3 linked regions of the Homo sapiens genome follow. The protein of the gene in region 2 purifies or fractionates together with the protein of the main gene of each other region. This does not show direct contact. Each region holds a gene or a part of one and is shown on either strand. Other genes may lie near its edges.

Region 1 (3,655 bases), on a different chromosome or scaffold from region 2:
GGAACTCCTTGAGGAAAGGCAGAAAGACAGGACAGTATGGGCTGTGTGTGGAGGACAGAGGGGATGTTGAAGGTGAGGCTATAGACTGGGTTCAGGCCAGAACATTTTGGGTCCTTTTCCCATACCTTATTCTTTCTCAGTGAAATAAGGAAAGCTTTTGGAGAAAATAATTTTGGCAGGGGAGCTGAGATCAGAGGTGGATATGCTATGAGGAGCCTTTCCAGGAAGGGTGGCAATAGCTGACACTGGATGTATATGGCCTTTTATTCCCAGTGCAGGGCAAGGAATGGCTGGAGTTGGAAGAAGATGCCCAAAAGGCCTATATAATGGGACTCTTGGACCGGCTAGAGGTGGTCAGTAGGGAACGGCGGCTGAAGGTGGCCCGGGCTGTTCTCTACCTGGCCCAAGGTGAGTGACCACCCTTGCTAGCTTTAGAGGGGTGGAGGCTTGAGAGGGAAGTGGGCATTATCAGGACTGAGATGACGCAGGCTGTGCTGGGAAAGCAAGGTTTCTTGCCTCTCAAGGACAGATCTTGTCATGTGCTAGGAGTAACCTGTGCTTATGAGGAAGATGAGATAGTGTTGAGTGCTGTTCTAGATCCCTCGGGATCTGCCTTTATCTTACCAGGTATGTCAGAATTTTTTATAGGGTTCTTCTTTTCCCTACCCTGTACTATAATCATATGTGAATACTAGCAAGAGGTGTGGCCAGAGCTGATATGTACCACCAGCTGATCATGGAGACAAGACATCAACTGTGGCCTGGCCCCAAAACTGAGGAGAAATAGGAGAGTGTCACAGATACACATGGACCCCTTGCATTGTTTCTCATTGGCATTTTGAAAGTTCAAGCCAACATAACTGCGGGAGTGGATGCTGTGAGTAATTTGGAGATGATCAGAACTAAATAGAGTAATTGGGGAAAGCTGCTCAGAAGAAACCTGTTAGCCAGGTGTTGGAAAGGGAAATGAGATAGCCTAGCTGGAGTGAAAATAAGCCTACGATCATAAATATAAGGCGTGTTAACAGAACCAACCAGTTGGGAGCTAAAAAAAAAATTGTAAAATAAAAAAATAATAAATGAAGAGGGGAAAGGGTGGACATTAGGTGAAGAGAAGACTAGCAAATAGGACTGTGCCCTCCTGTATCTCTTGGGTCTGGTGCTCTGGCCAACTTCCAACTGCCAGTACCTTCATATGTTTGCCCAAGGACTTTATTTATCTAAGTTTTTTAAAAGAAAGTCTCACTGTGTTTCCCTGGCTGGTCTTGAACTCATAGGCTCGAGCTATCCTCCTGCTCCAGCCTCCTAAGTAGCTAGGATTATAGGCATGTGCCACCATGCTCAGCTTCTGCTCAAGGGCCTTCTCTGCAGCCCATACAGGGCATCCAGGAAGTGTAGGGAATCAGTGTGCTCCTTTAGTTTAGCACCCTCATCCAATGACTAACAGGAGTTAGTGGATGGATAGCCTGACTGTCTCACCCCTCTTGGATAGAATAACTGTGAGTTGTGTGTTTTATACTGTTTCCAAATTATCCCCTGAGTGAACTCTTTGGGCTTCCTTTTCTTCCCTATCTCTACTGATGATTCCTGGGAATGATTCCCAAATAAGCTACTTGCACTGGAATCCTTACTTACCTCAGGATCTGCTTCTGGGAGAACTCACCCTTAAGACGATAGGCCATTGATGAGCACATTGGACCTAACCCTGGAGACTACCTCTCCTCTCCCCTGACTCATTCCAGGAAGTTCTTGGGGCCCCTGTCATACCTATGTCAGCCTAATTATTAGGCAGAGTATTATAGGAAAATCTTAAGATCATGGGGCAGGGTGGAAAGAACTGGGATACTGCCACCCCTCAACCCCTGTAACAACTGTCTGGTCCTTTAGGTACTTTTGGGGAATGTGATTCAGAGGTCGATGTGCTACACTGGTCCAGGTACAACTGCTTCCTGCTGTATCAGATGGGGACCTTCTCCACCTTCCTGGAGCTACTCCACATGGAAATTGAGTGAGAAGCCTTAGGGGAAGGGCTGGCCTACATAACCCCCATTCCTTAAAGGGGCCTCATGTTCTATGCTGCTTCCCTCACTATAGAGACCCCCTGTGAGGAACTGGGTCTACTCACACCTCAGCCCAAAGCTCATTGACAGTTCCCCTCCATCCAGCCATGTTCTCTGATATTCTGTTCTCCCTCCCTGAGGTTGGATACATCTGCAGCTTCTGCCTCACTTACAGCTTTAATCCTGGGCTTCAGGGGCCTATCCTGAGTGGGTTCTCTTTTTATTCAAGGACTTTCTTAGCTCAGCCTAACTCTGGAATTCAAGAGGGAAACTATTTTGAATGCATGACCCAAGAAAGACAGGAAATCAATTCCTGTCATTGTGCCCAATTCTTTCCCTCATGGGCTATAGTTCTAGAGGTGGCCTTATTTGCTGCTACCACTACAGTGACCCCTTGTTTTGTCTCATGCCCATCACCCAGGAGTTTGAGATAGGGTGCAATCTGCTTATTATTCATCAGGTGTTTCTTAGCATCTGTTTTATGTCCAGCACAGTTCTAAGCATAGTGGGGAATGCAAGAGGAGTGGATACCACAGATCCTGCCCTTGCCTTGTCTTCACCATAGATGAGAGTTTGCTGAGGTGGCAGGGGAATTCTGTCAGCTCCTTTACTCTAGACCAGTTTCATTAGTGGCTGCCTAGCCAGGGAATGGCAAGCACTCATATTTGTGTGAGTGATAAGTAAGAGCACAGAGAGAAAAGAAGTCTTATGCATTCCTGTTCTTTTTCTCCTCCCCTGGCAGCAACAGCCAGGCCTGTAGCAGTGCCCTTCGGAAACCAGCTGTCTCCATAGCTGATAGCACAGAGCTCAGGTGAGTGGGGCTAACTATGGGCTTGGAACAGGGCAGATGATTAGCACCTGGGTTACCTTTTCCCCAAATCCCAGATGACTCAGACCATTAGGAAGTTGCCCTGTAGCTAATCTCACTGGGTTGGGCTTCCCACAGAGACCATCTCTGAGGTCTGTGACTATGGGCTGGGAATTGCCTTGGGAACCTCTTGTGACTCTTCTGTAACCCCAGGGTGCTGCTGAGTGTTATGTACCTAATGGTGGAAAATATTCGCCTGGAGCGAGAGACAGACCCCTGTGGGTGGAGAACAGCCCGGGAGACCTTCCGCACTGAATTAAGTAAGAAATGGCACTTGAGGAAGGTGTGGATGGGGTGCTAATGGGAGAGGGGAAGCAGAGCATCTGCCTAGGAGAGGCAGACAGTCGTTTTTTCTTTTGTTTTCTTTTTTAAAATTAATGTCCTTTCTTTTAGGACACAGATACTGCATGGCAGGCACAAGGGCTGGGCTTGATTGCCGCCCTGTATCTATGAGCTAAGACCAGCCATGTAACTTCTCTATGCCTTGGTTTCCTTGGTTATAAGTGGGGATAGCCATTCCTCTCCCACTCTATCACGAGTCCCACATGAAAAAATGAGTTGAATCACCTTGAAAACTGAGTTCTGTTCAAATGTAAGTTGGTGTTGTCATCTGACAGGGATAGGATATGAAGGACTATGGGATTTTAAAAATATATTTATTGATGTGGAAAAGTGAATGACATTGAGTCCTTTAGCCAGAAAGCAATGTCTTCATTATTGTTACTTC
Region 2 (3,655 bases):
AATGGTAAAGAAACACTGTAAAATGTCAGATGGTGATAAGTAGGGTAAAGGGATAGAGAGTCATGGGAGGGTACTGTTTTAGTAATCAGAGAATATTATTCTGAGGAAAGGCCAATTGAGTAGACTTGACATAAAGTGAAGGAATGAGCCAAGTGAGTTTTTAACCTAGTAGCTATCCATGAGAATAATTGTCCAGGTCTCATCCACTAGAGTCATGACTTTAATTGGTTTGGGATGACATTGTCCATGTTTCTTTCTTTTTTTTTTTAAGTCCCCAAGTGATTCTGATATGTAACGATGCATTATAGCCACTGAAAAAGATATATCTCTAAAATAGAGACAAGTTAACTGTTTTACCAGTGCTTATTAAGAATATCATTTCCAAGTATTTAATATACATTTCTGGTTCTTCATTGTGTTAAATTCTTGGAATGTATCAAAATTCCCAAGCAGTGAGATCTACGGAAGAGAATAAGCCACTGCTAGACATAATGCTTCTAACTTCTTGGACAGGCCTACCACTATATTATACAAGGTGTAAGACCTTTACCTTCTTCAAGTCTATCATCAGCAGAAGCCCAAACTGCCTCCTTTCCTTCACATTGGATAAGTCTGCTTGAGCAGAGAAGTAAGAGTGAGGAAAAGGGAGGATTTTCTTCTCCCTGCTCTCACAGAGGTTCATAAAAGTATCATGGACAGGAAGATTAATATATTCTGCCCAAACTGAGATATTAAAGCATTCTGTATGCTCACATCATGACCAAACTTCTTAGAAATTACATATGCGTAATAAAGTTCTTTCAGTCTTTCTGTAAAGGCAGTAGAAAATTTGGAGTTCCAAAGAGGGTACTGTGACTTATACCCAAAGCTATAAATGTCATGTAAAATCACAACTCACTCTGGTAGCTGGAAACAGTTATCAAACAGAGTTTAGAATTAATTTACCAATTACTGTCTAGCATCCCTTTTCATCCTAAAAGATAGCAGAGTAATACCAAGGCATATGGTAGACCAAAGATATTTGCTGAATGAATGTATCAAAGAATGCTTTAGAAAGGATCGACAGAAAACCAGTAATTCTCATATACTATTAACAATGTATTACTTAACATGTTTTCAAAATGCAAAAATAAAGTAAATTCTTCAGGAAAACTGAGTTAAATTCTGATTTACCTTTTTTGCTCTTTCAGAAATGGTTGGTGCTCTCTGCAATGTTTTTTCTTGAAGAAATTCTTTATTCTGGAGAGGAAAAGTAAGTATTTTGTTCTTACAAGTTTTTAAGGTACCAAAAAAAACCCACAAAAAAGTTCACCATAATCAAAATGTGATATAGTAACTGTTCTGTAATGAAGTGTGAGAAAAACTTTCATTCTTTCACTCTGAAGCTCCTTTAGTATGTTACTACCACAGTTTCATAAATTGAGGCAGAAAATTAAGATGTAGTACACTGTATGAACCACTGTCTATGAAGAGTTTGCTGTACTGTATGTTCTTTGAGATCATGGTCCTACATTTCCAACTACAGTAACATCCTACTATCTGATATATTTGGGAAATGAGATGTTTACAAATTCAGTAGTAAACCTTAAAACCAGAGTTCGGTATTTTTCACAAATTATATTTATAATGGCAAAATTTAATAATCATTGTTCCTATGATCAGTTTAACCTAATATTTAAAAACGGATTTACTAAATTCTGAAGCAATTATCTTAATTATCAAAGACTGTATACATAGTGCTTTCTGCAATTATTTTATCTACCATCATTTTTCCAAACATAATCATCCAACTTCTAAGCACTGAACATAATCTGAGTAATTGAGGAGCATCCTATGAACACACATAATCAAAAGCTGGAATTTCCTACCTTTGCTTTCTGGAAAAATTTGTGCCTTAATAGTTCTGCTGCTGTTGGTCTAAAACCAGGAAGGGAGGGAAGAAAAGTTTTTATAATTAATTCAAGTGTAATGTCAGATTCCATCATCAAAAATGAGAAAAAATTTTTTTCAACAGCAAAATAAAAACTCAGTATACTCTACTTTCCTTAAACTGCTAAAAAGCAAAAGTAAAATAAACTTGATACAGGACATTGAATAAAATAAAAAACTCAAAACAAATATTCTGATAATTATTGTAGATTCTTTGAAAAAATCATTAGTGAAATGTTTTTTCTGGAAGCATGATTTCTTAATAGAGTCTAATATATTTGCTATTTAATAATATTAATTTAATATTTAATATTATTTCCCAATAAGTAAGCTAGAAAATATCTATCTAACATTTTTAGCAAGGCATAAAAATATATTTAAACACACAAAGAGGAAATGGACCAAATCAAGACCTCCACTTCTTGCCACATGGTAGCCTGCCAGCCTTCAATTTAGGTAACCACAGATCCCTAAAAACAGATTTCACAATCTCCCTTTAAAAATGAAAATTCTAAAAGTATATTCCCCAAATTTAACAAAACTCAGTGTTTAACTCATTTCTTCATGGTCTTATTTCCTTTTAAGTAAAGACACGACTGTCAATTTTACAAGCTTTTAAAAGAGTATCATTCAGAATAAAGAATTTAACATTTAAGAGACTGGACCTGATTTTGCCACACACCTACCTGATCCTGAGCAAATCACAACCTCTCTAAGGTTCAGTATTACTTGGCCAAGCCCCTAAGTTCTTAAACACTGCTGTGCATTGAACTATCTGGGAAGAATGTAAAAATCCCAATGACCAGAGGGCACCATGGCTCATGCTTGTAATCCCAGAACTTTGGGAGGCCAAAGTGGGTGGATCACGATATCAGGAGTTCAAGACCAGCCTGGCCAATATGGTGACACCCAGTCTCTGCTAAAAAAACCACAAAAATTAGCAGGGCATGGTGGCGTGCGCCTGTAGTCCCAGCTACTTGGGAGGCTGAGGCAGGAGAATTGCTTGAACCCATGAGGCGGAGGTTGCAGTGAGCCAAGATTGTGCCACTGTACTCCAGCCTGGGCGACAAAGCAAGACTGTCTCAAAAACAAACAAACGAACAAACAAAACCAATGACCAGGCTGTACCTCAAACCAATTAAAGCAGAATCTTTAATTGGCTTTAGTAATGTTTAAAACTCCCCAGGTAATTCCAATAGGCATTCAAGTTTAAGAACCAGCACCTCAGATGATTATTATAAAGATTAAAAAGCTGAATAAATGTGAAAGTGCTATGCAAACTGAAATCCTACATTATCACTCTTATTTTTTCATATGCTCAACAATTGCTTCTCAATATGCTCAACAATGTGATTGCTCAACATTGCTTCTTATTATTCATTCCTTTCTTCTGACTTCATTTCCTTCTTTCTAAAGTACAACTTATGGGTTCTTTAAGTGACAGAACGTGACTGGAAAACTCAATTTCTGTGTGCAAAATAATTTCATGCTCATTCTTGAATGATAGTCTGACTAGCTGGAGAACTCTGGGTTAAAGTCACAGTCATGAGCCTCTTAATGCTTTGGCCAACAATATACTGTGTATCTGACAGTAGTCAGAGCAACAGGCTACACTAAATAGCCTAGGCATGCAGTAGGCTGTACCATCAAAGTTTGTGTAAGTACACTCCACGATGTTCAAACAATGACAAAACTGCCTAATACACATATTACAGAATGTATCCTC
Region 3 (3,655 bases), on a different chromosome or scaffold from region 2:
TGAACATGGAGTCTACCCTCTTAAATTTTTAAGTGCACAACACTACGTTGTTAACTACAGGTATCATGTTGTATAACATAGAGTAGTATTTGTTTCATTTTACAAAAATCCACTCCTAATACCTGAGACTGAAACAAATTTAAGAGGAAAATTTTTAACTGTGTCTGTGACAGTCTTATCAGAAGTATGAAACTTAATGCTTTTGAGAAAAAGACACCTGTAAGAAAAAAATAAATGCTCAATTAAGTTGCATACCTTGGCATCCCAGTCTTTATTAAGATAATATATACATGTCACACATCTTCCATCTCCATTTGGATTATCAACATGACGTACATAACCCGTTCCATTGCCCGGATAACAAGCAACCATGGCCTGTAATAATGATAATAATGATTATTAAAGTCCATGTATAAATAAAAAGAGAGAACAGCTAATAAATCAGATCTCTGATTTTTGGCTACTGATTTACACTTAGATTCTTCTAATAAAAATAATATTTTGTAGATAAGATAAGGCTATTCTACATTAACATTTATAGGGAACACAAGATAGGTTGATGAACAAGGACTGGTGAATTCTGCTTCACAGTGATAACTCCAAAGATCAGAAAAATTTCTTGGTCCTACTTTGACAATCTTTATAAATACAGATAATCAAGATCAAGTACGTTTTTGTCCTGCTCCATGGGAGATTTCAATCTTCCTTGAGCTCACCTCAGAACACCTACTTTACCATCTGATAGGTGAACCAACCCAGTCAACACCCCATCTGACACTGTCTCTGAATGGTACCAATTTTTTTTTTTTTTGAGACAGGGTCTGGCTCTGTTGCTCAGGTTCGAGTGCAGTGATGCAATCATGGCTCACTGCGGCCTCAACCTCCTGGGCTCAGGTGATTCTCCCACCTCAGCCTCCTAAGTAGCTAGGACTATAAGCACGTGTCACCAGGCTGGTTAATTTTTGTATTTTTTGTAGATATGGTGTCTTACTATGTTGTAATAGGGATAATTTAGGAGGTCAACTAAACTCCAAACATTAACTCATTTAGTGTCAGTGATTTTTTTTTAAAAAAAGGACTAAACAAATTAGCTTATGTTTACCCTCTTTCAATCAGAAAGAAAATTATTTGCTCAGATTATAACAAGATATGGTTCAGAAGACTGTTGGATGTTAAGCTTAAAGGTAGAAAAGAGGCCCAAAATAAAAAGCACAAAATAACTTCCATATTCTAGGTGTACATGATAATTAACTGAAATTGGTAATGGTATTTTTTAAAAAATTCTCAGGAATTATGAAGAAAACAAACAAAGACGTTCAAGGTTATGAGCTATTCTTGTTTTTGTTTGTTTTTTTACAGAGTCTTGCTCTGTTGACCAGGCTAGAGTGCAGTGGCACGATCTCAGCTCACTGCCTCCACCTTCCAGGTTCAAGCGATTCTCCTGCCTCGGCCTCCCGAGTAGCTGGGATTACAGGTGCATGCTGCCAGGCCCGGCTAATTTTTGTATTTTTAGTAGATACAGGGTTTCACCATGTTGGCCAAGCTGGTCTTAAACTCCTGACCTCAAGTGATCCTCCTGCCTCAGCCTCCCAAAGTGCTGGAATTACAGGCTTGAGCCACCACGCCACCCGGTTTGTTATGAGCTATTCTTGAAGTCCTTTATTTCTTCATATAATAAAGTCAATGAATTAGTATAAAGTTATCAAACAGTAACCGAATTGTTCTACTATCATATTAAAAGAAAAATGCTAATTTTTAAAACTCACTTCCCATCCCTAAGAAACTAAGAGGCATCTTAAACCTAAATCCTTATTTAAAAATCCTGTTTCCCTAGACACTCTGAATTCACTGCTCTTTATAAGCAGCAGAATTTTTGGAGAACATTATATATGTCTCTGTTTTTCCTGATTCCAGACAGACTTAACAAGTTCCTTCTTTCAGCACTGGAGGTTGGTAACAACCAGGAGTGTGGCATGGGCTTAGTGGGTTTAAGTGCTCAATAAATGATGAGCCCAAATGATTTTCTTGTCACTAGCTACCCAGGAAAGAAGTTTACCTTGAATAGTAACTGTAAGAGGGTACTAATTTAACAATGCAATTACTCCATTTGTGGTTAACTGAAGTAATTATGATGAATTACACAATATATTGTTATTCATGGGAAAGAAGGGGGAAACCTGAACTCTACATCTCAAAAAAGTTAATTTGGGCCTTTCCAACTATCTGGTAACTTCAGCATCTCTTGTGTAAAGAAGGAAGGGGAAAATATTTGTCAGTCACTCACCCCATCACATCCCATATATCCATTTAACAAATACCTCTTGAACATCGACTATGTATATGAAAGGCACTGGGGCTAAAACGATGAACCAAAGAGAAAAGGTCCCTTGCACTCATTTACATAGTCCCTCCTTATAAGAAGTTTTGCTTTCTGTGATTTCAGTTACCTTTGGTCAACTTAGTCCAAAAAATTTAATAGAAAATTCCAGAAATAAACAGTTTATAAATTGCACACCATTCTGAGTAGTGCACTGAAATACCTTGCAGTCCTGCCCCGTTTTGCCTGGGATGAATCATCCCTTTGTCCAGCATATCCACACTGTAGATGCTATCCACCCATTAGTCATTTAGTAGCCTTCTAGGTCATCAGAGCAATCGTCGTGGTACTTGTGTTCAAGGAAACCTTATTTTATTTAATAACAGCTCCAAAGTGCAAGAGTAGCGATGCTGGCATACTGTTATAATTGTCCTATTTTACTGTTGTTGTTAATCTCTTACTTTATAAATTAAGCTTTATTATAGGTATGTATGTACAGGAAAAAATATAGTATATTAGGATTTGGTACTATCCACAGTTTCAGGCATCCACTTGGTCTCGGAAGGTATTGCCCTCAGATAAGAGGGGACTATTGTACTATGAAATCTGGTCTAACAGCATAATTAGCCAATAAACAGATATATAATGTAATGTTAGGTAGTGAAAAGTTGTATTTTCTTAAGATATGAAAAAAATTAGGTATATAGAGAAAGATGACATGATATTCTTGAACAGTGGTTGACATTTGGGTTTAGACTTAAATGAAGGGAGCGGCAAGTTGGGCAAATCTCTGAAGAGAGAGCAATGTGGCAGAGGGAAAATGAGTGCTCAAAGGCTGAACAAGGCAGGAAAGAGCAGCAGGCCAGTGTGGCTGGAACACAGCGAGCACGGGCCAATGTGATCAGAGAGGAACCAGGTAACCTAGAGCTGCAGGGCTTGGTAAGCCACAGGAAGGCCTTTGGATATTGTGCTAAGAAGGGCCAGGAAGCCAACAGAGAATGTATCTGACTAATGTTTTGAGAATATCAGTTTCAAGTCTGTATGAATAAAAACAACCACAACAACCTCAATATCTCTTACCACCTAACATTTATGGGACATTTACTGTTTGCCATGTCCTATCTAAGTAATTTGTGCATAACAAGTTGTCTGACACAACCATGTGAGGTAAACAGTATCACTGTTCTCATCCTCATTCCTCTAAACTGAGGTTTAGAAAGGCTAATTAGTATTCGCAAAGTCACATGACAGGGAATCTGGTTCCAGAACCCATGGAATTAACCACTGTACTAGACTGCAGGAAGCAAAGAGTGAAAAGAGAAGACTAAGTTAGCTATT

Evidence for each region.
Region 1: the proteins of OXSR1 (region 2) and STRIP2 purify together in Homo sapiens (co-immunoprecipitation; one large-scale study listed by IntAct). This does not show direct contact.
Region 3: the proteins of OXSR1 (region 2) and EGLN1 fractionate together in Homo sapiens (co-fractionation; one large-scale study listed by BioGRID). This does not show direct contact.

What each region holds. Positions count from the first base shown.
Region 1 is NC_000007.14:129,451,340-129,454,994, forward strand, and holds part of STRIP2 (striatin-interacting protein 2), read left to right. Parts: intron 1-273; coding exon 274-408; intron 409-780; exon of another isoform or gene 781-877; intron 878-1,887; coding exon 1,888-2,008; intron 2,009-2,802; coding exon 2,803-2,871; intron 2,872-3,081; coding exon 3,082-3,188; intron 3,189-3,655. UniProt on the Homo sapiens protein: Plays a role in the regulation of cell morphology and cytoskeletal organization. Required in the control of cell shape. Calmodulin-binding scaffolding protein which is the center of the striatin-interacting phosphatase and kinase (STRIPAK) complexes.
Region 2 is NC_000003.12:38,227,949-38,231,603, reverse strand, and holds part of OXSR1 (serine/threonine-protein kinase OSR1), read right to left. Parts: intron 1,918-3,655; coding exon 1,869-1,917; intron 1,240-1,868; coding exon 1,174-1,239; intron 1-1,173. UniProt on the Homo sapiens protein: Effector serine/threonine-protein kinase component of the WNK-SPAK/OSR1 kinase cascade, which is involved in various processes, such as ion transport, response to hypertonic stress and blood pressure.
Region 3 is NC_000001.11:231,373,725-231,377,379, forward strand, and holds part of EGLN1 (egl nine homolog 1), read right to left. Parts: intron 376-3,655; coding exon 256-375; intron 1-255. UniProt on the Homo sapiens protein: Cellular oxygen sensor that catalyzes, under normoxic conditions, the post-translational formation of 4-hydroxyproline in hypoxia-inducible factor (HIF) alpha proteins.